Linked DNA regions of Homo sapiens. The protein of the gene in region 4 interacts with the protein of the main gene of each other region in a biochemical or structural test. Each region holds a gene or a part of one and is shown on either strand. Other genes may lie near its edges. The genes, in order: HIPK2, RARA, CHEK2 and PML.

The links.
Region 1: of the proteins of PML (region 4) and HIPK2, one has a biochemical effect on the other in vitro, tested with the Homo sapiens proteins (2 studies listed by BioGRID).
Region 2: the proteins of PML (region 4) and RARA form a complex in vitro, tested with the Homo sapiens proteins (one study listed by BioGRID).
Region 3: the proteins of PML (region 4) and CHEK2 form a complex in vitro, tested with the Homo sapiens proteins (2 studies listed by BioGRID, with this or other methods).

What each region holds. Positions count from the first base shown.
Region 1 is NC_000007.14:139,774,988-139,781,983, forward strand, and holds the start of HIPK2 (homeodomain-interacting protein kinase 2), read right to left. Parts: upstream 3,012-6,996; 5' UTR 2,637-3,011; coding exon 2,618-2,636; intron 1,161-2,617; exon of another isoform or gene 1-1,160.
Region 2 is NC_000017.11:40,354,143-40,358,153, reverse strand, and holds the end of RARA (retinoic acid receptor alpha), read right to left. Parts: intron 3,853-4,011; coding exon 3,648-3,852; intron 2,892-3,647; coding exon 2,733-2,891; intron 2,146-2,732; coding exon 1,928-2,145; 3' UTR 511-1,927; downstream 1-510. UniProt on the Homo sapiens protein: Receptor for retinoic acid. Retinoic acid receptors bind as heterodimers to their target response elements in response to their ligands, all-trans or 9-cis retinoic acid, and regulate gene expression in various biological processes.
Region 3 is NC_000022.11:28,689,821-28,696,820, forward strand, and holds part of CHEK2 (serine/threonine-protein kinase Chk2), read right to left. Parts: intron 6,054-7,000; coding exon 5,890-6,053; intron 5,423-5,889; coding exon 5,307-5,422; intron 4,298-5,306; coding exon 4,212-4,297; intron 1-4,211. UniProt on the Homo sapiens protein: Serine/threonine-protein kinase which is required for checkpoint-mediated cell cycle arrest, activation of DNA repair and apoptosis in response to the presence of DNA double-strand breaks.
Region 4 is NC_000015.10:73,997,716-74,004,762, reverse strand, and holds part of PML (protein PML), read right to left. Parts: intron 6,760-7,047; coding exon 6,287-6,759; intron 1-6,286.

The DNA.
Region 1 (6,996 bases), on a different chromosome or scaffold from region 4:
ATTTCTGTCTAAATCTCTGGCGGTTCAGAACGCTCCATTAATGTATCTGGGCCTTCACCTGGTATTCCAACTTGGTGCAGCAGCACCCCATTGAAACAATTCCCTCTCGTGTCGTTATACTTTTCCTGAGAAGAATCATGCACACTCTTTAGGAGCTCAAAACCCACAAGGAATCCCTCTTCTTATAGAAATCTACAGGAAAAGCTCTGCTCGTTTAGCATGCACACAGGGAGTCCATGTGCTCTGATTGAGACAGGGGAAAAATCAGGTTTCCTGAACCCAGAGGATGTCACCACGGCAGGAGAAAGGAGGTCATCAGAGTCTTGGCACACTCATCACAGTGAGTGAATGCGGGTCCTAGCAACCTAATCCTTGATTCTAGAAGTCACCTGTCTGTTTTAGAGCATGTCCAACAATCTCTTTCAAAAACACCCAGATCTGGGCTTTTGGCAGACTGATGTGGGCCAGTTGAGGTGGGATGGGGAGGAAGATTAGAAAAATAATTATAAAGGTGCACAGATAAACATCCGGAATAAAAGGGTGCACAGCGCAGGAACAATGAAGAGGGCACACGGACAAGATGGAGGGAAACTGAGGGCTGAAAGAGGCCACCGCGGAGGTCACCTGAGACAGGGAAGGAAGGCTGGCAAATAAAAACAGTTCATGAGACTTTTGAGATCCATGATTATTCTTAAACCGTAACACCCTACACACCTGCAGTTCTTTATCTGGCGTAAGGAACTGGAAGAACAATGTAGCAGGAACGGGGAGAGCCAAGTCTCAGCCTCGGGGGCATGGCCTACCTTCCATATGGATTTAAAATGAAAGGAGCAGGAGGAGAACAGTGCAGTTCCCAAGATGGCTTTCCACAAAGTTGACAAAATACACCCCAACTCACATACCCGGTCCCTAGTAACAGGGAAACCAGCCGTTTACTATAGTTCTGAATTCAATGCCAAGTTCCTTCTCTCAACTCACCGGGAGTGTCCAGCAGAGGGAGTCTCAAGGAGGTACTTAATAAAGAGAAAATTGTTTCATTTTAACACTCTAGACAGTGGGAGCATTGACTGTAGCCCCCTCCTGTAGACGCAGATGAACAATGAACGCCCGACATGGGTTCTCCCGCATGTTCACATGTCCACCGGCATGTTCTATTCTGCGTGGTGGAGTGATCAGAAATTTCGTTTTGTTTTGTCGAATGGTTAAATGGACCTTGTGTTCTTCAGAATCAAAGAGGAAAGCCCCTGGAATAACATCTCTCTGTTGCCTTCTAAACAGCCCCTTTGTTTCTAAGAGAGTCTGAAAAAAAAATATTTACAGTCTATAGGTTATTTACAGCCTCGTTATCCAGGGCCTGACTGGTAACTTTATTCCGGCCAGAAACCTAATTCATTTGGAGCCCTGAAACTAATAACAGATTTTCTTTTAAGTTTTTTTTTTTTTAATCAGCCTCTTATAACAGAGATAAAACTATTAATGCCTTCCCTGTCTCACTGGCCACAACTGTTCTCCGGATTTACAGGAGGATTACATTCCCCCCTCGTGCCCTCCTCTGTGCCACACAAACCCTGTCCCCTCTCATTTGCGATTTCATCCACAGAATATCTGAACAAAACCGAAAGAAAGCCGGGGGACCCACGCTAAAAGTATGTGAAGGCTGCGATTTCAATGATTTCATGAGACAAACATTTACACGATGAAACGACTGAAAAATCAGACACACTTGGGTTTAAAATTTCTCCTACTACAAGCACACAAAAACACATCGAAGTGTAAAAACTTAGTTGATTCTGGGTTGCTTTCTGGCTGGAAGCTGACAGAACGGACTGAAGAGAAACGAAAGACAGTGTGCGAGGCAGACCTACTGCTTTTCTGCCTTGCGTTCTTTTCTTTCTTGCTAAAGGCAGTCAAATGGGGAAAAATACCCCGATGCCAGGTGAAGGTGCACAACACAGATCGACCCAGACCGAGCCAGAAAAACGTCTCCGCCGCTCCCCCGGCTGGAAAACCCAAAGTCCACGTCCCCTTCCACACGCTAATGAGGGGAGATTTTCGCCTATTTCATTGTTCTGCCTGGCTCTGACATGGACTTTTCATCTCTCTCCTCTCTCCCCACCTAGCCCCGTGCATTCCGATTCCACAGCCCCCCCAAAATCGGAGGCTCGCGGAGAATAAAGGAGCGTGGGGTGGGCGCGGAAAGAAATGGGAAGGGGCGCGGGGCGGAGAGCGAAGTGGAAAGGAGGTGCTCCGAAAGGTAATGTGGGGGGGCGGTGGAAGCTAAGCCGCATCACCTTCATTTATCGCAAATAAATAAAAAGCACAGTCACCGGTCCGCCTTCCCCGGCGTCCCTGCCCTCCCCGGGCAGCCGCCCACCCTCGCACACGCCCCCTCCCCTCCTGCGCCCCCGGCCCCTCTCCCCGCCCTGGAAGCAAGACCCTGCCGGCGCCGGGTCCCGGTCATCTTCCGGGCGAGGGAGGGGGTCGCGGCCCCCTCGGGCCCCGGGTGGGGGCTGGGGCAGGCGCCGGGGGCTGCGGGCGCGGGGCCGCGGGCAGAACAAAGCTGCGGGGGCCGCGGAGGGCGGCGGGCGCGGGGTCGGCGGGGCCGGGCGCCCCTTACCTTCGTACACGGGGGCCATCGGGGCCGGGGTGTCCGCGGTTCATGGCAACGGGGACGGGAAAGCGGCGCGCGAGCTCGGCCCCCCCAGCCTCAGTCGGAATCTGCCATCTTGAGCCTGTGTCTCCGCTCTCGGCGCAGCCGAGGCCGCCCGCGCCCGCATCACCGCCTCCCGTGGCCGGCGCCGGGGGAGGGGGCCGGGCGCGCCGCCGCCGCCGCCGCCGCCGCTGCCGCCCGGGCCCGGCGCGGGGGGCTCGGGGCTCGGGGCTCGGGGCGGCCGGGCGGGCGGAGCGGCCGAGGCCGAGGCGCCGAGCGGCCGCGGCCCCCGAGCGGATCCGCGGAGGGGCGGGAGCCGGGGGCAGCGCGCGGCCAGGGCCGGCGGGGCTCAGCTCAGCATGGCTGGGCGCGGGGGCTCCGCAAAAGTTGCTGGCGGAGGGGGGCGGCGGGCGGGGGCGGGGGCGGGGCGCGGGGCCGGGAGAGCCACAGGGAGTCCGCGCGCAATCGAGCGCCGATGGCACGGATGCGAGGCGGGGAAGGCCGAACCGAAGGGCAGAGCCGCGCCGGCGGCCCGAGGGGACCGCGCTGGGAGGGGCTGCCGCGCAGCGCGGGGGGACTGGGCGCAGGGCGGGCCCCGGGTAGTGGGTGAGAGGGCCGGCCTGGACCCGGCGGGCGCACGGCTCCGAGCCCAGCGCAGCCGAGCCGGTCTGCAGAGGGGCCCCCAGAACTTTGTGTGTGTGTGTGCACGCGCGCGCGTGTGTGCCCAGGTGCGAGGGTTCGCGCGTGTGCTGGCGGGGAGGGAACCGACCCGAAAGAGAGCCCCACGCTGGCAAAGTGGCTCGCCCATCTCACAGCCGGTTGGCGCTCGCGGAGGTAGGAGTGGAATGAATGAATGAAGGAGTGGGCGCGCGCCGTGCTCCGGAGGAGGGCGGGTGAGTGGAGGAGCTTCGGAAAGCCACACGAGGTCAGAGGCACCGAAGCCCTGCCGTGCACGCCGCGGAAATGCAGCCCCCGGGGTGGTCGCTGGGTTCCTGCCGGAGTCTGGCTTCCACGCCACCCTGATCTTCTCCTCCTCGCGTCTACACTGTCCCGAGGGCCGCCACTCCATCACTTGAATGGGAGCTCACAACTCTCTGGGTCCTCGCTTTTCTCAGCGCTCTCTCCTATCAGGGCTTCCGCTAAACACTCTCCAGACTCTCCCCAGCCGGGAGCCTCTCCAGGTTTGCTTCTCCAGCTGCCTCCCGGATGCTTGGATAGGATGCCCTGCCATCCCCTCCAACTTAGGAAGACTTGTTGAGTCTCCTCTTAGGCACTGTTTTTAAAACTGTGGGTCGTGACACAGTAATAGATCATAAAATAAATGCAGCGGAAGGCAACCAGCTTTCAAAAAGAACGAAATGGAATCCAATAGAAAATATTAGAGTCCATTGCCCTTAGTAAGGGCAACTATTGTTTCATAAACCTTTTGTTTCGATTATAGGTACTGGACAAGTGTACTGGACCATGATGTCAATTTTATTTCCGTCTGTGAATCGTGGGTTTAAAAAAGTTGAAAAGCTATCTGTGTAAAATAATGATCTCTAACACTGTATAACTTTCTTAAAAACAACCTCGTGATTTTCTCACTACTTCTTATCCTTTCCGGTCTCCATCCTCCGTTCCCATCCTTCAGTCCTTCCCAAAAAAGGCAAGCTCTTTCACACTTTTTTAGTGGTACATCACGACACCTTCCTCTGTGTGATCTTGTACTCTGCGGTCTTCCTTGCCCCCATAATCAATGCTACACTTCCTATCCCTTCTCTTAACCTAATGCCATTCACGTTTGCAGAATCCTAGACTACTGTTGCTAAAAGGACCTCAGAGGTCATCTGGGCCAGCCCTGCCCTTTTAGAGTTGAAGAAATGGAGTCCAGAGAAGTAAAATCTGTTGCCCAATGTCACACAGTATTGAAGCTTAGGAATAGGTCTCGTGGCTCCCACTCTAGTGTTTTTTGCTCCACACCGGTCATTTATCTCCTTCCCTTCTATCCTCCCTGCAATCTTTAACTTTAGTCTTGGCCCAGGTCATCCTAAATATTGCCATCTTCATAATACGTGGTTCTGGCCATGCCACGCTCCTGGCTAACATCCTCTAAGGACTCAACCTCTGCAGGTGGGGCTGAGTGCCTTGGCTTTTCATCAAGGCAGGCGAGTCCTGACTTAGCTTTCTAAGGACATGAGTTCAGCAAGTCACTGCTTCTCTAGCCAAACTGGTTTACTTGTAGCCCAGTGCCAGCTTCACCCATCTCTGTCACTGTGCCTTTGCCCAAGCGGTCACTTTCCCACCCACTTTCCCAGAGGGGTACCTTCTCCATCTTCTCTCTTTAAGCAGATTCTACCTGTGCCTGGCTCACCTCCTCCACAAAACAGCCCGAGATAGCGTGGGAGTAAGTCAGACCTAGGTTCAAATCCTAGCTCTTCCACTTAACTATGTGATCTTGGTCAAAATGCTTAACCTCTCTGAGCCTCAGTGTCTGTATTTTGATTATGAGAAGGAGAACAATAGTAATGTTCTCCTTTTGCATCTGTAAATCTCTATCATAGCCTTCACCACACAGGTATGTAACTCCCTGTTAATACATACCCTACATGCATGTCTCTCTGCCCCTTTCTAGTGCTGGCCATTAGAACTTGCTGCCATAATGGCAGTGTAGCTACTTATGTCTGTGGAGCACATGAAATGTGGCTAGTATGACTGAGGAACTGAATTTTTAATTTTAATAACCATGGGTGGTTAGTGGCTACCATTTTGGACAAGGTGTCTCTAGACTGTAAGCTCAGTAAGGACAGAAACCATGTTTTTCTTGTTTTGGATTGTATGTCCAATAACTGCATTGCCTAACGCATGGTGAGTACTGCACACATATTTGTTGAATGGATGATAGCTGCAATTTGTTGCATGCTCCCTTGTGTCCAGCACAACACTACAAACTCGATAAAAGGCATTTCATATAGTCCTCATCACAGCCTCTGAGGCTGGGTTAGATTAGAGAGAGAGTTTTATATAGAGGGCAGACACATAGTAGGGGTTCAATAAAAGTTATTATTATTCTAACTCCTCCCTCTGACCAGCCCCACTGACTTTTGTCTCATCTTTCCTTAGGCTCACAGAACATTTCCTGCCTGTTGCTCACACTCTGTTGTCCACAGCATACCCGCACCCTAGATGGCTGACTCTTGTCTTCTGTGTAGGTACCCTGTGTTCATAACTGGATTGGCAGCGTCTTGGAGCAAGGCCCTGCTTTATAGGACTGCCCCTGAATTCAGCACTGACCAGTGTTCAGTAACTGCCTCTAAGTCCATCCCAGCTGCTGTCTAGCAGTGAGTGATTCTAGGCAGTCTTAAAATGAATATCACTTGTGTCAACCGAAAACATTTTACAGGTAGTCTCCTCCCCATAAGAAGGGAACAATCTTGGGCAAGGAAATAGAGTCCCATGGAAGGGGAACAAGATGGAGCCATACAGACAGAGGTCCACCTTCTCTTCAGACCACCATGACTGAAGCTGTATCCATGAGATGCAAAACATGCATTCAATTGAGCTAGCGAAGTTCGTATGATATAACGGAAAAATATTCTTGAAATGAGCTTAGATTTTCCTTCATGAATTGGCAGACTGAGTATACTAATTGTCTCCTTTCCTTCCGGTGACTGCAGTCAAGTGGCAGCAAGGTATAAACCTAACAGTGAAATGTCACTGAAGGAGAGCATGGGAGCTGGGAGGAGAGAGGATCTGTGACAGAACCTGGGGAGTACCAGTATTTGAGACATGGGAAGAGGAAAAAGAGCTCCCCATGGACAAGAGGGCAGAGAAGTTGGAGGACAGCCAGGACGGGGGATTCCTCAACATCCCAGCAAGGTCAACAGTGCTGCATGCTATTGAGAGGCCCACGTCAGATGAAAGCAGAAAAGCAGCTGGGTGCTGTGGCTCACGCCTGTAATCCCAGCACTTTGGGAGGCTGAGGCAGGCAGATCACCTGAGGTCAAGAGTTTGAGACCAGCCTGGCCAACATGATGAAACTCCATCTCTACTAAAAACACAAAAAAAATTAGCCAGACGTGGCGGTGGGCACCTGTAATCCCAGCTACTTGGGAGGCTGAGATAGGATAATCGCTTGAACCCAGGAGGCAGAGGTTGCAGTGAGCCGAGTTCTAGTGCCATTGCACTCTAGCCTAGGCAACAAGAGCTAAATTCCATCTCAAAAAAAAAAAAAAAAAAAAAAAGGCAGAAAGGCATCAATTGGATTTAGCAACAAGAGTTGCATTAGTGACTTTGGTGAAACTAGTTTGGAGGGAAATACAGGTTTCTTAAATTCTACCTGAATATGTGTCCTGTTTTATGGGTGG
Region 2 (4,011 bases), on a different chromosome or scaffold from region 4:
TCAAGTGATCCGCCCACCTCAGCCTCCCAAAGTGCTGGAATTACAGGCATGAGCCACTGCGCCAGGCCTCTTGTTAGGTTTCTATGAGTCCCTGACCCCAGCTCCTGTGCCATCTGTCATTCCTGCCGTGATGGTGAAGGCTTCCCAAGGACCAGAAATGTCTAGGGGTGGCTCCGGCTTCCTCCCTCAGACTGGGGGTTCCCTGAAGGTGGGGGCAGCTTTCCTCCTCTTCTCTCCCACTCCCAGACTGGGGCTCCTTGACATGGGCAGTGTGGATCCCCAGACTGAGGGCTTCCCAAGGGGCAGGACTTTCTCCTTCTCAGCATCTCCAAAGACCCCAGCACAAGGTAAGCCTCAGAAGGCAGCTTGGAAGGGTGCCCTGGCCAGCCCCTTGGCCCCAGTGCTCATTCCTGGCCATCACAGGCCCAGAGCACATGACGAAACCCATCCCAAGCCCCCAGACCAGACGCCAAGAGGAGGGGGTGGAGGCAGCAAGGCTGGAGGCATGTGTAGAATAAATAGAACTTTATTCTTTATCCAGTAGATCTCAGTGGAAAGCCCAACAGTAACAGGTGCACCCACGGGCTCCAGGGGAAGGGGCCCCAACCCCTGGTGAAGGAGGTCGGGGCAGAGCCAGCTCCCCCAGCTGGGGGTGCAGGGGTGAGGGGAGACCCCCCTGTAGGCCCGTCCTGCGGGGTAAGGAGGGGGCACGGGGGTGGGACAGGTTGGGGGTGGGGGGCAGGCCAGGGAAATGGAGGAACTCGGGCCAAGTGTGTGTCGGCCCATCTACTGTCCAGTGTGTGTGTGTTTGTGTGTGTGCGCACGCGCATGTGTGTGGTGTCTGGGGGCCCTATGGGGGTGCTGGTGGCTGAGGCCGGGGGTGGGGGCAGCTCGGGCCCCTGGCCAGCCCCTTCACAGTGGGGGCTGGGGAGCCTAGATGATGTGGGCCCTGACGGGAGGCAGCTCTGCCGAGGAGCCAGGTCTGGGAAAACTCTGTCCCGGGGCCCTTGCTCTGCCCTGCTCCATGCCTCATGGTGGGTGCAGGCAAGTGCCAAGGCCAGGAGCCTGTCCTTTCAGGGCTGCCCCACACCGTCCACACCCAGTGGTCAGGCAGAGGGAGAAAGGGGCTGGCGGCTTCTCCAGTGGGAGGGAGGGGAAGGCAGGCCTTGGAAAGTTAGTACTTCACAGTTTTAAAGAGAAAACTGAGGAGGAAAAGGCTGAGGAGGAGAACTGGGGGGCACAGGGACATGAAAGGAGAGTGGGGGCCCCTTCCGAGCCACTCCCTCCCCCGGACCCACCCCCTCCAGCTCTGGATCCAGCTCCCCCCAATACACAGCACAAATTCCTTCAGTATAAATGTGCTTAAAATGAAAATTCTTATTAAAAAAATCAAAACAAAAAAATTAAAATAAAAACAAAACCAGCGAGAATTAATACCTGGGGTTGGTATGGCAGGGTATGTACAGGGGGAACCCCCCGCCCCTGTCCCACCCCCTCTGTCACCAACCGAGGCAGGGGGGAGGTTGAGGTTCCCCAGCTGGGGAGCAATGGCTTGTGAGTTCTGAGGATGGGGGAGCCAAGTCCTGGCGTTTGCTGGTGATGAAGATGTGGTGAGCTGGGCAGAGGGGTGTCTTGATGAACACGAGGCCCCCAGGACCCATCCTGAGACCCAGGACCAGGGGCCTCACTCAGTTCCTGGCCTCGGCCTCTGACGTCAGCCCAGGCTGTGGGAGCAGGCAGTCCACTGAGGGCCCAGGCCTCTGTCCAAGGAGTCGCTGCCTCCTCCCTCCCCGTCCCCCAGGGAAGGTCCCCAGTACTGCCCGGGAGGGCAGGTGGGGGCAGGGCTGGTGCGGGGTCACATGGTCGGTAGAAAGGCAGAGAAAAGCCGGGGCGGAGGGCGAGGGCTGTGTCCATGTGGCGTGGGCGGTCACGGGGAGTGGGTGGCCGGGCTGCTTCTGTTGGAGCTGGGGCTGAGGCTGGGGCTACAGCTGCCTGGCGGGGGGGCCAGGCCACCCCCGTCCCGCCCCCCACCCCCCGGCTGTCCGCTCAGAGTGTCCAGGCCCTCTGAGTTCTCCAACATTTCCTGGATGAGAGGCGGCATGGAGCCCGGGATCTCCATCTTCAGCGTGATCACCCGCTCAGCCCCTGCAGGAAAGGAGGGGGCAGAGGTCAGCACGCTGGGCCAGCCCTCCCACCCCCAGCCCCAGCAAGCCTGGCTCGAGGTGGGAAGATCAATACTGCTGATATTAGCATCTTTCTTGGGATTCAGTTCTTTGACACGAGCCAGCTCTCTTAAGCCCCCAGGTCCAGAGGCTGGTGGCAATGGGGCAAAGTGGTCCCGAACTCCGGCTCCAGGGCCAGACTGCCGGCCTGGGCTAGACGCCAAGCCCTTCCTTCCCCTGTGCTGTGTGCTAGGGATCATCCCGACCCCTCTGTAAACACGAATGTTATCCCCGCCCTCGGAAGGGAAACTGTAGCTAGGAGCTGTTGAGTGACCCACACAAGGACACACACCCACGTGTCTGGTTCCAGAGCCACGATCTGAACTACCACACAAAGGTGACACAGGCGGGCCACCTCGGCAAAGTGGAGTCACTAGGGGACCTCAGCCTAGACACAGATGGGGACAGGTGTCGTATTGTCCTGGCACAAAGACATGGGGTGCTGGCTTGGATGTGGGGGCCTGGGCCAGGTGTCGGGGGCCGGTACCCCTCCAGGTCTGTGAGCCTCACCCTTGGCGCTGATGCTTCGCAGGTCAGTAATCTTCATTAGCATCTTGGGGAACATGTGGGGGCGGCTGGGCCTCCGCTTCCGCACGTAGACCTTTAGCGCCTCCAGCAGCGGCTCCTGCAGCATGTCCACCCGGTCCGGCTGCTCCAGGTCCTGGCGGTCTGAGGAAGCAGAACCACCCCCTGAGCAGCTGGGAACACAGCTGCACCCCCAGCCTCGGCCACCGGGGGGCGTGCCTGCCCAGGCCATGGAGGAGGGCAGCTCGCAGGCGCCTCCCCACACAGGGCAGGGCATGGGGTCTCTGCTGCCGCAGGGTACAGAGGCCCTTAAAAGGGAGCAACGGGAGCTGAGGGTGAGGGGGTGCCCCAAACCCTCCCTGAGCCCAGTTAGTGGGATGGGACCCCAAATGGGCAGTGCCATCCTCAAGCAGGGAGAGGGTTCCCAGGCAGGCTCCCACTCCCCCCTGTTATTCTGGAAACCAGATGAAATGGCAGAAATCACAACAATAAAATAGCAACTAACAAGCACTGGAGCTCGCTCTGGGCACCTGCACAGTATCTGTTACCACCGTAATCCTCCCATCAACTTCATGAGCTAGAGACCGTTACCGCCCCCACTGTACAGAAACGGAGGCCCAGAGAAGTTCAGCAACCTGCTCAGGGTCATGCATCGGCCAGGAGGTGACCCTGGTTGGTCCGACCCTCAAACCCTCACTCTTAACCTCCCTAGAAGGGGTGTTGCCCAGAAATCGGGAACAGGAGTCCAGGCCCCACATGGCCCCCTTGCTGTGTAGTTGCAGACCAGACCCTGCCCTCTAGAGATACCTAACAGAGGTGGCCTGAAAGAGCTCCCTGGAAGAGACTCCAGGGCTGCACCCCCGTCCCAGCCCAGCCCCCAGACCCAGGCCCCCTGCCCACCTCCGCAGATGAGGCAGATGGCGCTGAGCAGCCCCGTCTCCGCATCATCCATCTCCAGGGGCAGCAGCTGGTTGGCGAAGGCAAAGACCAGGTCGGTGAGGGGGCCGAAGCCAGCGTTGTGCATCTGGGTCCGGTTCAGGGTCAGCCCGTCCGAGAAGGTCATGGTGTCCTGCTCGGGCGTGTACCGCGTGCAGATCCGCAGGATCTGGGTGCAGAGGATGCTTGGGTTCAGGGACTGAACCCGAACCCACTCTGAGCACTCGGCACCAGCACTCCGCACCAGCACTCCCGGAGGACCACCTGGCAGGTGGCCGGAGCAATGCTGTCTGATAGAATTTTCTACAATGATGGAAAGGTTCTACGT
Region 3 (7,000 bases), on a different chromosome or scaffold from region 4:
CAGGAGATGAGGAGGGCACAGACAGTGTGTATGCGAGTAGCTCCCACCTCTCTGGATGCTCACTTCTGCAGGGTTCGAGGATTTGCATTAGGAAACCCTGAGAGGTGGTCTGGTGCAGCTCTCCCCATCTTCAGCAAGGTGAAAGGAACATCCATAACTAGGAATGTGGCCTTTGAGTGCTGGCCAGAAGCCCAGCTCAGCCACTCACAGGTGGCATGTGCAGAATACAGACCCAGAGTTATCTGATTCCAGTGCCTCATGTACTTTCCCACCCAACTCCAGCCCCTCCTCCCACTGAGCCAAGCATACCACAGTGGGGAAAGGGAGAGGATACAGTAAAGTCCTCCACCATTTGGCAATTTGATGGATATGGAAATTTTACAACACTAGGTTGGGCATGGTGGCTCATGCCTATAATCCCAGCACTTTGGGAGGCCAAGGTGGGAGAATTGCTTGAGGCCAGGAATTTGAGACCAGCCTGGGCAACATAGTGGGACTTCGTCACTACAAAAAAAATTAAAAATTAGGCCAGGCACGGAGGCTCACGCCTGTAATCCCAGCACTTTGGGAGGCCAAGGCAGGCGAATCGCCTGAGGTCGGAAGTTTGAGATCAGCCTGGCTAACATGGTGAAACCCCTTCTCTACTAAAAATACAAAATAAGCAGGGCATGGTAGTGCACGCCTGTAATCCCAGCTACTCAGGAGGCTGAGGCAGGAGAATCGCTTGAACTCAAGAGGCGGAGGTTGCAGTAAGCCAGGATCACACCACTGCACTCCAGCCTGGGCAAAAGAGTACAACACTGTCTCCAAAAAAAAAAAAAAAAAAATTTAAATTAGCCAGACATGGTGGCATGCACCTGTAGTCTCAGCTACTTGGGAGGCTGGGGCAGGAGGATCACTTGAGCCTGAAAGTCATGGTGCAGTGATCATGCCACTGCACTCCAGCCTAGGTGAGAGAGCAAGACCCTGAGGAAGGAAGAAAGGAAAGAAGCAAGGAAGGAAAAAGGGGAGGGGGGACGAAAGAAGGGAGGGGAAAGGAATGGAGGAGAGGGGAGGGGGAAGGAAGGAGGAAGAAAGAAAGAAGGAAAGAAGGACCAGGCACAGTGGCTCACGCCTGTAATCCCAGCACTTTGGGAGGCCAAGGCAGGGCAGATCACTTGAGGTCACTCTGTTTTGAGTTTCTCAGTGTAGCTCCCCATTGCCATTTGACAGCAGCAAGCTCATCTGGATTCTACTCCGCACCCTCTCACGGCCTTACTTAGGATCTCAATTATCTTGCAGTGTCACTCTCAAAAGTCCATCTCTTGGCAGCCCTTCAGTGAAGCCAAACAGAGTGGTCACAAGCCTAATCAGGCCTGTATTTAAAACAAGTAATCAGGTCAGGCACAGTGGCTCATGCCTGGAATCCCAGCACTTTGGGAGGCCAAGGTGGGTAGATAACCTGAGGTCAGGAGTTCGAGACCAGTCTGACCAACATGGTGAAACCCCATCTCTACTAAAAATACAAAAATGAGCTGGGATGGTGGCAGGCACCTGTAATCCCAGCCACTTGGGAGGCTGATGCAGGAGAATCACTTGAACCCAGAGGTAGAGGTTGCAGTGAGCTGAGATCACACCATTGCACTCCAGCCTGGTAGACAAAAGCAAGACTCCATCTCAAAAAAGGAAATAAATAAATAAACATTGATTTTCTTCATGATGTCTACAATTATTCCAAAATATTAAATTAGCCAGGAACAGTGGCTCGTGCCTATTATCCAAGCACTTTGTGAGGCTGAGGCGGGAGGATCCCTTAAGGCCAGGAGATCAAGGCTGCAGTGAGCTATAATTGCACCAGTGCACTCCAGTTTAGGCAACAGAAGAAGACCTTGTCTCCAACAGTAAATAAAATAAAAATTAAATTGTAATATCCCTTGAAAGTAAACAGAAGAAATCCTCTATTTCAGGCAGTAAATATGAGGCAGAGAGTAGATGTAAGGGATGCTCCCAAAACTGGGCACTCTGTTAATGACAAAACAGAGACCAGAATCCACATTCCCAACACTCAGTTCAGCGACAGACCCACAAAACCATTTGGTTTTTTCAAAAACACTGAATTTTCCCAAAATAAAACCCAAACTATCACTAACAGATGTTTTAGATGGTCAGTCTTCATCCTTGTCTTCATTCAATGCTCATTCCTCCTTTCACTGCAAAAACAAAAGGTGGCTAAAAGAGTATTCCAGGGAGATCCTGCAACAGAGTTGAACTTCACCTTCTCCTTGGTTGTTAATAAGTTTTCTTTGACACAAAAAAGTACAAGAAAGATAGGCTATGCTTGCTCATAAATTTCAGGCAGATGCAAACCCTGTTCCCAGGCTCAACTGGCCAGCTCTATTTTTTGTTAGAGATGAACACAGCTCCTGTACCTCTACATTTAGACCCAAGAGTTTCCCTATTAGGACACATGAAAAGAGCCAAAAGACATGTTTCTCTTTTTCATCAAAATTAAAATCCCCACATGCAAAGGCACCCTTTGTTTCCAAACCCCTTTCCTCCAGGGTCCCACTGTTTCAAATCTGTGTGGTCTATTAAATGCTAAATCATCTGACAGATTTCTTCTGGGGAGACTGTAGTTTCCAGGGCAACATCCAAACACATATATGTCTTTTTTTGTTTGTTTGTTTGTTTGTTTTAAGTTTTTGTTGTTCTCAACCTGAGCTGGCCTGAGCAAAACTGTTAGGTGTAGAGGATTGGAACAGAGAACAGGGACAGTCTTCCCAGAGTCCCAGAAGTACGGGTCGGAGGCTGGACTGCCCAAGGAGTTCCTGGACCAGTAATCCCCAGAGAAACAGCATTTAGCTCAAGTAACAGCCTCTAGCTCAAGCTACCAGTTCTGTCCCCCATCTCCACAGAAAACGGATTGATACAGTTTGGCTTTGTGTCCCTACCCAAATCTCATCTCAAATTGTAATCCCCAGGTGTTGAGAAAGGGACCTGTTGAGAGGTGATTGGCTCATGGGGGCAGTTTCCCCCAGGCTATTCTCGTGATAGTGAGTGAGTTCTCACCAGATCTGACAGTTTCATAAGAGGATCTTCGCCCTTCACTTCCTTCACAAGCTCTCTCACCTGCTGCCATTAAGACATGCCTTCTTCCCCTTCCACCATGATTATAAGTTTCCTGAGGCCTCCCCAGCCATGTGCAGCTGTGAGTCAGTTAAACCTCTTTTCTTTGTAAATTACCCAGTCTTGGGCAGTTCTTTATAGCAGTGTGAGAACAGACTAATACACAAACCAAAAAAAAATTCATAGAAAGGGGCATGTCTGTGCTGAATGGAACTGCTCATTACAGAAGACCAGACATCTATCAGAAAAACCTGCCCAATGCCGTGGCTAATTCTAAAACTAAAGATTAACCCAGCAAAGCCACAACATACTTCCAACTCTTGGCAGTTCCAGATGAGGTCAGCATTTAAAAATGGCAGCCCCAACCCCTAGCAGGAGCACAGCGGTAATACAGATGAAAAGTGCAGGTGACAGCCTTCATTAAGGACACATTTACTCACCTGAATGAACAAGCAGTGGGACCCTTTATACCCAGTCACTTGGGCTTGAGAAATAGCTGGATTCTCCCCAGGGAGGCTGTCCTCCTCCCCCTCCCCCACTTCCCTGATTTAAGGTTGAAGATGGCTGGAATGCACCCCACCTATGAAGAGCAGTGGACATGGCTGGGGGTAGAGCCAGAACAAGCACTCAAAAGAACACAGGCCAAACAGGAGACTCGGGGCAGCCAAGTGGAACCAGAACAGGACATAAAGTGAGCGTGTACATCCAACAGCCATGAGTAATATCAAAAAGGTTGTAGCCTGGCCAGCACGGCGAAACCCCATCTCTACAAAAAATACAAAAAGTAGCTGGGCATGGCAGCATGCACCTGTAATCCCAGCTACTTGGGAGGCTGAGGCAGGAGAATCACTTGAACCCGGGGGCCAGAGGTTGCAGTGAGCTGAGATCGTGCCACTGCACTCCAGCCAGGGTGACAGAACAAGAACCTGTCTCAAAAAAAAAAATAAAACAGGTTGTAACCCATCCTCCAAGATACCCCCCATACATCTAAAACAATTAGATTAAACACTCAACAAAGTAAACATGTTTCTGTCCTCTGTCTCATGTCTCTCAGGCAGCAGGGCTTCCCATGTATTTTATGCTAGCAGGCACTGTCCCACACCCACCTGAAGCCACGGGTGTCTTAAGGCTTCTTCTGTCGTAAAACGTGCCTTTGGATCCACTACCAACAACTTCTTGACAAGGTCCAGAGCTAAAGCAACAATTGGGCAAATCACAGTGAAAAGGATAAATATATTATCAGTAAGAGTATGCCAGAATTAACAGGCCACCATTCAGAAAGAGCAGAGAGGGTCTGAGATCATCACGGAGTCAGCAGACAGGGCCCCCTAATCTTCCTCACTCTCTGTATTCAGAGTACTGTGAGAAGACCAGGAATGATAATGACACTCCCTGTCTCCTGCTGCTGGGACGTCAGTCACGACCTCTTCACTGCCTGTTCCCTCTCTTGTTGCTAGACTCAAGGTCGGACTAATTAAAGCTAAACTTCTACCCAATTCTAAGATACTTGGGATGCACAGCAAACTCTCTCTGACATCTACAGATGGATAGGTGACAGTTACTCAGCGAGGGAGAGGCTCCCTGGAACTGCAGACTTGTCAGAAATAAAACTTGGCTACTCCAGCAAGCAACAAATGCACGCTGGCCTGTATATTACAACATTATTATTCCTTAAATATTCTGACATTTAACACAATCACCTATGTTATGTTATTTGACATTTAATTTTCTACTTTCTCTTCAGGGAACTAAAGTTGCCAGGATAAATTATAAAATACAAGGTAACTAATGACATCTAGTTTTTACATGCTTGCTTACTCAAAGGAAACCTTGTAACTAAAAAGTTACAAGTGCATTTATTTTGCTCACTAAAATAGGTACCAGGCACTTGTGTACATGATACTTAACCCTCACAAAAACCTTTTAAGGTAGGGTTTATTGAGGGTCCCTTTACACAGAAAGAAATTGGAGATGGAGGTTAAATAACTTGCCTAAGGCCACACAGCTAAGTAGTAGCAGACCCAGGACCTGAGTGCATGCTCTTAATAATTTCCAGTGCCTCTCAAATGGTGTGAAACTAACAATAGAAAATAAGAACAGAATTGACAGGAGAAAACACCATGGAATTTGGGAAGAAACTCCCACCACAGCACATACACATTTTAGCATACCACAAATTCTTAACCCTTTCATATTCATACCTTTCTCTGAGACTTCTGCCCAGACTTCAGGAATGAAGTTGTATTTTCCACTGGTGATCTGATCCTTCAGTGACACTTGAGTCCTATGCTCAGAGAAAGGTGGATACCCACTAAGGCTTAATATTGGTAGAGAGAGAAAGGAAAAGAAATCAAGTGGCATTCTCAGTGGCATTCAGATATAAAGATTTCTTTTTCAGCATAATGAAAAGTCAGATTTTTCTTTAAATCAATGGTCAAAAAGTGAGCTAGGCTGGGCACAATGCCTTAGGCTTGTAATCCCAGCACTTTGGGAGGCCGAGGCAGGAGGATCACTTGAGCCCAGGAGTTCGAGACCAGCCTGGGCAACATGGCAAAACCCCATCACTACAAAAAATAGAAAAATTAGCTGGGCATGGTGGTGTGCATCTGTAGTCCCAGCTACTCGGGAGGCTGAGGTGGGAGGATCACTTGACCCAGGAGGCAGAGGCTACAGTTAGCCAAGATCAAGCCACTGCATGCCAGCCTGGACAACAGAGCAAGACACATTTGTGACTTCATCTAATCACCTCCTACCAGTCTGTGCAGCAATGAAAATATTTCTTACCAGATAAAAAGAATAACTCCTAAACTCCAGCAGTCCACAGCACGGTTATACCCAGCAGTCCCAACAGAAACAAGAACTTCAGGCGCCAAGTAGGTGGGGGTTCCACATAAGGTTCTCATGAGAGAGGTCTCTCCCAAAATCTTGGAGTGCCCAAAATCAGTAATCTAAAATTCAGTACAAAAGGGAATAATGTTGAACTTGCCATAAAATAAAAAGATTAACATAGTCTGCCAGTCCAAGAAGACACGTAGGCTAGATCAGTTTCTATTGTACAATTCACACCTGCCATTAATCTGGAATTTACAGATTCATGTCTTTGCAAGTTAGGACATTTAATTTTGCTTAAATTAAAATTCCTGAGCCTAGGAATCTCAACACTCAGGCTTTCCAACTTAACCTATGTCCTCTGTAATCTTACAAAAAGCTTATTATCTTTATCACAGACACTTCAGGATTCTAATTAGTTCTACATGGTTCTTAGACCCCAGTGTCTCAAACTTGGCTGCGCTATGGAATACCTGGGGAGCTTGGAAACACATGCTTATACCTGAGTGCCACTCTCAGCTTCTGAGGTAAAGCCTGGGTGTCATAAATCCTAACAAGAGATTCTAAAGTGATGCCAGACTTGAGAAACAGGGAAAGGCAGCGCATGTGATTACTCATTCATTCATTCACCTATTCTGAGATGATGTCTGGCCCTTTTGCACAGGCTGGAGTGCAGTGGTGCGATCTCAGCTCACTGCAACTTCTGCCTCCCAGGTTCAAGTGATTCTCGTGTCTCAGCCTCCCAAGTAGCTGGGATTACAGACACCCACCACCATGCCCAGCTAAATTTTTGTATTTTTTGCCATGTTGGCCAGGTTGGTCTCAAACTCCTGACCTCAGGTGATCTGCCCACCTCGGCCTCCCAAAGTGCTGGGATTACAGGTGTGAGCCACCATACCCAGCCCACTCGTCCATTTAGACCCCTCCTCTCTCTCTAAGCACAAAGGTCACTTGTACACAACAGAGCTCAATAAATGCTCATTCGAATCTGGATAAGAGCAGTATCACCTGATCTCTAAAATAATTGGTAACAGTGAAAGGGTCAGATTCTCATCCTTTTTACGCT
Region 4 (7,047 bases):
TATATTCCAAGAGCAATACTCTATCTCAAAAAAAAAAAAAAAATTAAAAAGCAGAATACAATTTCCCTGAGATGAAGAGCTGAAGAAAGACTTGAGTTTTTCAGATCAACAATGGCGATAGAAGATTATTGAAAAAAGAAAAAATTATATAAAGATCTTTAGCAGGCTGGGCATGGGCTCAAGCCTGTAATCCCAGTGCTTTGGGCGGCTAAGGCAGGAGGATCACTTGAAGCCAGGAGTTTAGACCAGCCTGGGCAATATAGTGAGACCCTATCTCTACATAAAATTTTAAAAATTAGCCAGGCATGGTGGCAGGCACCTATAGTCCTAGCTACTCAGAGACTAAGGCTAGCAGACCTCTTGAGTCTAGGAGTTCGAGGTTACAGTGAGCTATGATCACACCACTGCACACCAGCCTGGGCAACAGAGCAAGAACTTATCTCTAAACAAACAAATAAACAAATGAAAACCATCCAACTATATTTATTAGCCAGGCACGGTGGCAGGTGCCTGTAGTCCTGGCTACTTGGGAGGTCAAGGTGGGAGGATTGCTTGAGCCCAGGAGTTTGAGGCTGCAGTGAACTCTGATTGCACCACTGCATTCCAACCTGGGTGACAGAGTGAGACCCCATCTCTAAAAAGTAAAATAAATAAAAATAAATAAAGATCCTTAACAAACAAAAACAGATTACTCACAGAGAAAAAATAGACCATTAGTGGACTTCTCATCTACAACACCAGAGACTAGAAATTTATGAAGCAAGGTTTATATATTCTGAGGTGAAAGCACTGTGATTATGACCTCAGAATTTTACACCTAGCTCAACTTTCCCTCACATGTGACAGCAAAAGAAGGACATACAAGTAAAGACACTTAAGGTCTCAGAAAGTAAACTCTGGAATAATTTTTTTAATTACTTGATGGAGTATTCCTGCCAAATGGAAAATTAATCACCTTAAATAATTCAAGAAAGGAGAAGAAAAGCTATAGGAAAACTTATCATGAGCAATGAAACCAATTAAAGTATAAGGTATGGCTAACAAGTGCGTTGTAATATGACCATGAAGCTTAATACCTGTTCAGAAAGGATGTTTACAAAAGAAAAAAAAATTAACAATTTGGTAGTAATCTGGAACTAAAAGTTCACATTATTTCAACTAAATCTGAAAGTGAGAAGGAAGAGGGAAGAAGAAAAACTATAAAAGTGTGCTAAATGTTTTATTTTCTCTGGAAGAATAGTTATATTCTACTCTTTGTGGTGATAGATGAGATAGGTTCTAGAGTGTGCATGTATGTGTGTGTTGGTGTGTGTATACACTTTTTTTTTCTGAGATGGAGTTTCACTCTTGTTGCCCAGGCTGGAGTGCAGTGGCACAATCTCAGCTCACTGCAACCTCCGCCTTCCAGTTTCAAGCAATTCTCCTACCTCAGCCTCCCGAGTAGCTGGGATTACAGGCGCCCGCCACCACGCCCGGCTAATTTTTGTATTTTTAATAGAGACGAGGTTTCACCATGTTGGTGAGGCTGGTATTGAACTCCTGACCTCATGATCCGCCTGCCTCAGCCTCCCAAAGTGCTGGGATTACAAGCGTGAGCCACTGCGCCTGGCCCACTTTTTTTCTTTTTTTAAGACAGAGTCTCATTGTGTCACCCAGGCTGGAGTGCAGTGGCGTGATCATGGCTCACTGCATCCTTGAACGGACAGGCTCAGGTGATCCTCTCTGAGGAATACCTCCACCTCCCGAATAGCTGGGACGAGAGGCATGTGCCACCATGTCCAGCTAATTTTGTATTTTTTTGTAGAGACGGGGTTTCACCATATTGCCCAGGCTGGCCTCAAACTCCTGGGCTCAAAATATCCACCGGCCTTGGCCTCCCAAAGTGTTGGGATTACAGGTGGAAGCCACCACATCTGGCCTATATATATGTTTTGATGGGGAAGTTACCACTCTGTAATTATCATTTAGAGAACTGGTGAAACAGAATGGAAGGAAAGGTAGAAAGTTTCGGCCAGACATGTTGGCTCACGCCTGTAATCCCAGCACTTTGGGAGGCTGAGGCGGGTGGATCACAAGGTCAGGAGATCAAGACCATCCTGGCCAACATAATGAAACCCCTTCTCTACTAAAAATACAAAAAAAAAAAAAAAACTTAGCCGGGCATGGTGGCACACGCCTGTAATCCCAGCTACTCAGGAGGCTGAGGCAGGAGAAACACTTGAACCCGGGAGGAGGAGGTTGCAGTGAGCCGAGATCATGCCACTGCACTCCAACCTGGATGACAGAGCAAGACTCCATCAAAAAAAAAAAAAAAAAAAGAAAAGAAAGAAAGGTAGAAAGTTTCAATAGCGTGGAGATACACACACACACACAAGCACTAGAACTTACATATATATGGATATATACATATAGATATATGCATATATACACATATATATTATATACATATATTTGTGTATGTATATATATGTGTGTACAACAAATACAACTTTTCAACTCTAAGGATTATTGCTAGGAATATGTGAGTCCAAGGAATATCCTAGGCCGCTAAGAAAATCTCAATATAGTCTTAGATGTAGAACTCATACAAACTGTATAAACTGGCCATAGTGCAGAAATTAACAAGTATGAAATCGCACCATCACATTCCAGCCTGGGTGACAGAACAAGAAACCAAACATCAAAACCACTTGAAAATTTTAGAAAACACTATTCTCTAAAACTTTTCAAGAGAAAAAAATTTCTTTTTTTTTTTTTTCGAGTCAGGGTCCGGTTCTGATGCTCTGGTTGGAGTGAAGTGGCACCATCACAGCTCACTGCAGGCTCAAATTCTTAGGTTCAAGCAACCCTCCTGCCTCAACCTCCCAAATAACTGGGACTACAAGCATGTACCACCGACCATGCCTGGCTAATTTTTTTTATTTTTTGTAAAGATGAGGTCTTGCTATGTTGCCCAGGCTGATCTCGAACTCTTGACCTTAAGCAAGAGAACCTTTTTAAGAAAAGACTGAAATGAAATTTGAGAAATGATTGACTATGAGAACACTAATGAAGTTATCAAAGTTATGGCATACAGCCAAAACCATATACAGAGAACTTATGCCTTAAAAGAGTTATTATTAGGCAGGGCATTGTAGCTCACGCCTGTAATCCCAGAACTTTGGGAGACTGAGGCGGGTGGATCACTTGAGGCCAGGAGTTCGAGACCAGCCTGGTCAACATGGGGAAACCCCGTCTCTACTAAAAATAAAAAAAATTAGCCAGGCATGGTGGTGGGCACCTGTAGTCTCAGCTACTGGGGAGGCTGAGGCAGGAGAATCACTTGAACCCAGGAGGCACAGGTTGCAGTGAGCCAAGATCTACCACTGCACTCCAGCCTGGGTGACAGAGGGAGATTCTCAAAAAAAAAAAAGTTATTATTATTAAACAATAAAGATTGCAAATAAATGAATTATAAGTTCAAGAAGCTAGAAAATGAATAATGACAAAAGTTAGAAGGAAGAAAATGACAAAAATAAAATGATCAAACAGAAAGAAGGAAAACATTAAAATCAGTAAGCAATCTAAGGAAAGACTAAAAGTACAGTACTTTGAAAAGACTGCTAAACCACAAATATACAACATCAGAAATAAAAAAAGGGGGTATAGTTACAGGCATATAGGAGATTTTTAAATAATGAAAGATAACTCAGGATGAACTGGAAAATCTTCCAAAAATCTGACACAAGAGCCAAAACAGATTAATGCCATGGCAAAAATGGGAAAAGTTCCCAAAAATCTACTATAAAAAAGGCACCAGTTCCAAGATGGTTTTTCAAAAAACTTTTATAAGCCTAAATTTCTTATATTCTTCAAATTGTTCTAGAGCAGAGAAATTATAATAGAATTTTAACATTCACTGAGTATTTAATATGTGCCAGGCACTACGCTAAACAATTTATATGTACAGTTGGCCCTCAGTATCTGCAGGTTACGCACCCGTGGATTCAACAAATCTTGGATCAAAAATATTCAGGCGAAAAAAAATCAATTAAAAAAGTACCACAATAAAAAAATATACAAATTCAAAAATATAGTAAAACAACTCTTTACATAGCATTTACATTGTATTAGGCATTATAAGTAATCTAGAGATGACTTAAAGTATACAGGAGGGGATGGGTACAGTGGCTCACACCTGTAATCCCAGCACTTTGAGAGGCCTAGGGAGGGTTGCTGCCTGAGCCCAAGAGTTCTCAAGACCAGTCTGGGCAATGTCGTGAAACCCTGTCTCTACAAAAAATTTAAAAATTAGCTGAGTGTGGTGGTGCACACCTGCAGTCCTGTATAATCTGGTGGCTGAGGTGGGAGGATTGTTTGAACCCAAGAGATTGAGGCTGCAGTGAGCCACGAGTGCAGCACTGCACTCCAGCCTGGGCGACAGAGCAAGACCCCGTCTCAAAAAATAAAAATAAAATAAAAAATAAAGTATACAGGAGGATGTGTAGAGGTTATATACAAATACTATGCCATTTTATATCAGAGACTTGAGCATCTATGAATTTGAAACAGACTCCCATGGATCCCGTGGGATGGCTGCATTATCACGTTCAAAACATGAAAGCTTACAAATTCATTAAGAAATTAGTATAAGGCTGGGCATGGTGGCTCATGCCTGTAATCCCAGAACTTTGGGAGGCCGAGGCAGGTGGATCACCTGAGGTCAGGAGACCAGCCTGACCATTATAGTGAAACCCTGTCTCTACTAAAAATGCCAAAAAATTAGCCAGGCATGATGATGTGCACCTGTAATCGCAGCTACTTGGGAGGCTGAGGCAGGAAAATGGCGTGAACCCGGGAGGTGGAGGTTGCAGTGAGCCGAGATCGCGCCACTGCACTCCAGCCTGGGTGACACAGCGAGACTCCATCTCAAAAAAAAAAAAAAAAAATTAAAAAAAATTTTTTAAATCCAAAAGATAGAACCAGAGATAAAGCCAATTTCTCCTAATTTATTGCAATTTCAATCAAAATCCAATAAATATGTAAGTTTTAAAACTGCATAAATTGTAAGAGCAAAAGAAATGCATACATTTTTTTCTTTCGAGGAATTTGTTCCTGAATTCTTTAATTAGTCCCTTAATTCCTCAACGGAAACAACAACAACAACAGGCAAAGGACCTAAACAGGCCACTCGCAAATGCAGAAACACAATGGCCAATAAACAAGTGGAAAGCCACTCAACCTTTACAATAAGCTAAGAAACGTGGTGATACCAGCTGTTGAGGAGTCGGAGGGGAAAGCTTATTCTGATAGTGTGGGAAGTTTATCCTAAAGCAGGAAACAAATCACAGTCAGTTTAGCAGATATGTAGTTCAGCAAATATGTGGTTTAGCCATATATAGTTCTGAGTTGTCAAAAACCAGCGAAAAATGCTTTCATTTTGCAAGTGGATCTCTAAGAACCAAGAAGCGCCTTCTATGAACAATCTATTGCTAATGGTGAAAAGTTCACATAGTTATGCTACCTTTTTGGCTAAAAGAGGGAAAATAGGACCTGATAAGATTGCTCCTACCTGCATATATATTCGTAAAGAAACTCTCAGAAGAAACATTCAAAACTAGTAACAATGGCTACCTGTGGATGGGAAGAGGGAGAAGTGGTGGGAATTAGGCAGTTGGGCATGGACAGAAGATTGCACTCTCTCTCTCCTCTTTACAAATTTTGTTCGTGAACTGTACGAATGTATTACCTATTAAAAAACTGAGTTAAAATCTGTTTAATAAAAATAATTACAACTGGATGTGATTTTTTTTCCCCATACAGACATTCTCAGATAGCGCTGCCTGGTGTTAATGGTTTCAACTTTTCAGACAGAAACTAACTACTTGTCTCTGATCCTAGAATCCAGCCTTACTGAGATTCCGTGTCAGTGCTCTCGGAAAATTCCACTAAATTCTAAAGGGCAGTTTGGTAACATGTATCAAATGTAGAATTCCCGTCCCCCTACACCCAGCAGTGGCACTTCTAAAAATTTATCCTAAAGAAGTTACTGGATAAAGATGCAAAGATGATTCTGCAGCATTATTTATTACAGGAGGAAACTGGAAACTTACTATCCACCTGCGTGGGGACTGGCAGCATAAATTGTGGTCATCAACACGGACACTGCATATCTGCAGACCACATTTAGAGTTGCAAGGCCCCAGAAGCTCCTTGTCCTCAGCTGTGTGACTCTTTGGATCTTTGCTCCTCTCGCCCTCTACCTGGTACTTGGATGCACCACCCCACCCTGTGCCGGCCTACTCACCTGGTCAGCGTAGGGGTGCGGTGGTTGGGGTTGGAGCAGAAGATGTTGTTGGTCTTGCGGGTGCCGTCCAGGAACTCACGCACCGACTGGTTGCGCAGCTCTGCTAGGGGCCGGGCCTCGTGCTTGAGGAACCACTGGTGTGCCTCGAAGCACTTGGCGCAGAGGAGCTGCTCGCACTCAAAGCACCAGAAGTCGGCCGACTCTTTGCAGCGGGTGCACACAGCCTGCGCATCCACAATCTGCCGGTACACCGACAGGCGCCGCTGCAGACTCTCGAAAAAGACGTTATCCAGGGCGGGTGTGTCTGCACCTAGGGGCCAGGGCGCCTGGCAGATGGGGCACTGCATGCCCGACGCCTCCAGGCATCCTGAGCACAGCGTGTGCAGACAAGGCAGCAGCTTCGGGCACTTGGCTTCCGCCTGGCATTGCTGGCAGCGCAGAAACTGGAACTCCTCCTCCGAAGCGGGGGCTCGCTGGGGGACCAGAGAGGCAGGTGAGGCCTGGAGAAGTCCCAAAAGCCCCCACCTACCGGCCAACCACCCTTACAGCTGGACCCTGGAGTAGGACCTCATATTCCATTCCAGCCAGTCATTGGATGATGCAAAACCCTGGCTTATCAGCACCCCAATACCCCCATTTATTCAGGCCCTCCAGCTCTCACTGCACCATTTATTGAGCATCTACTTCTCATCACCCACAGTAATAGGCTCTGAGATATAAGAGGTGTAGGATACATTCTGCCTTCAAGGAACTCAGTTTGG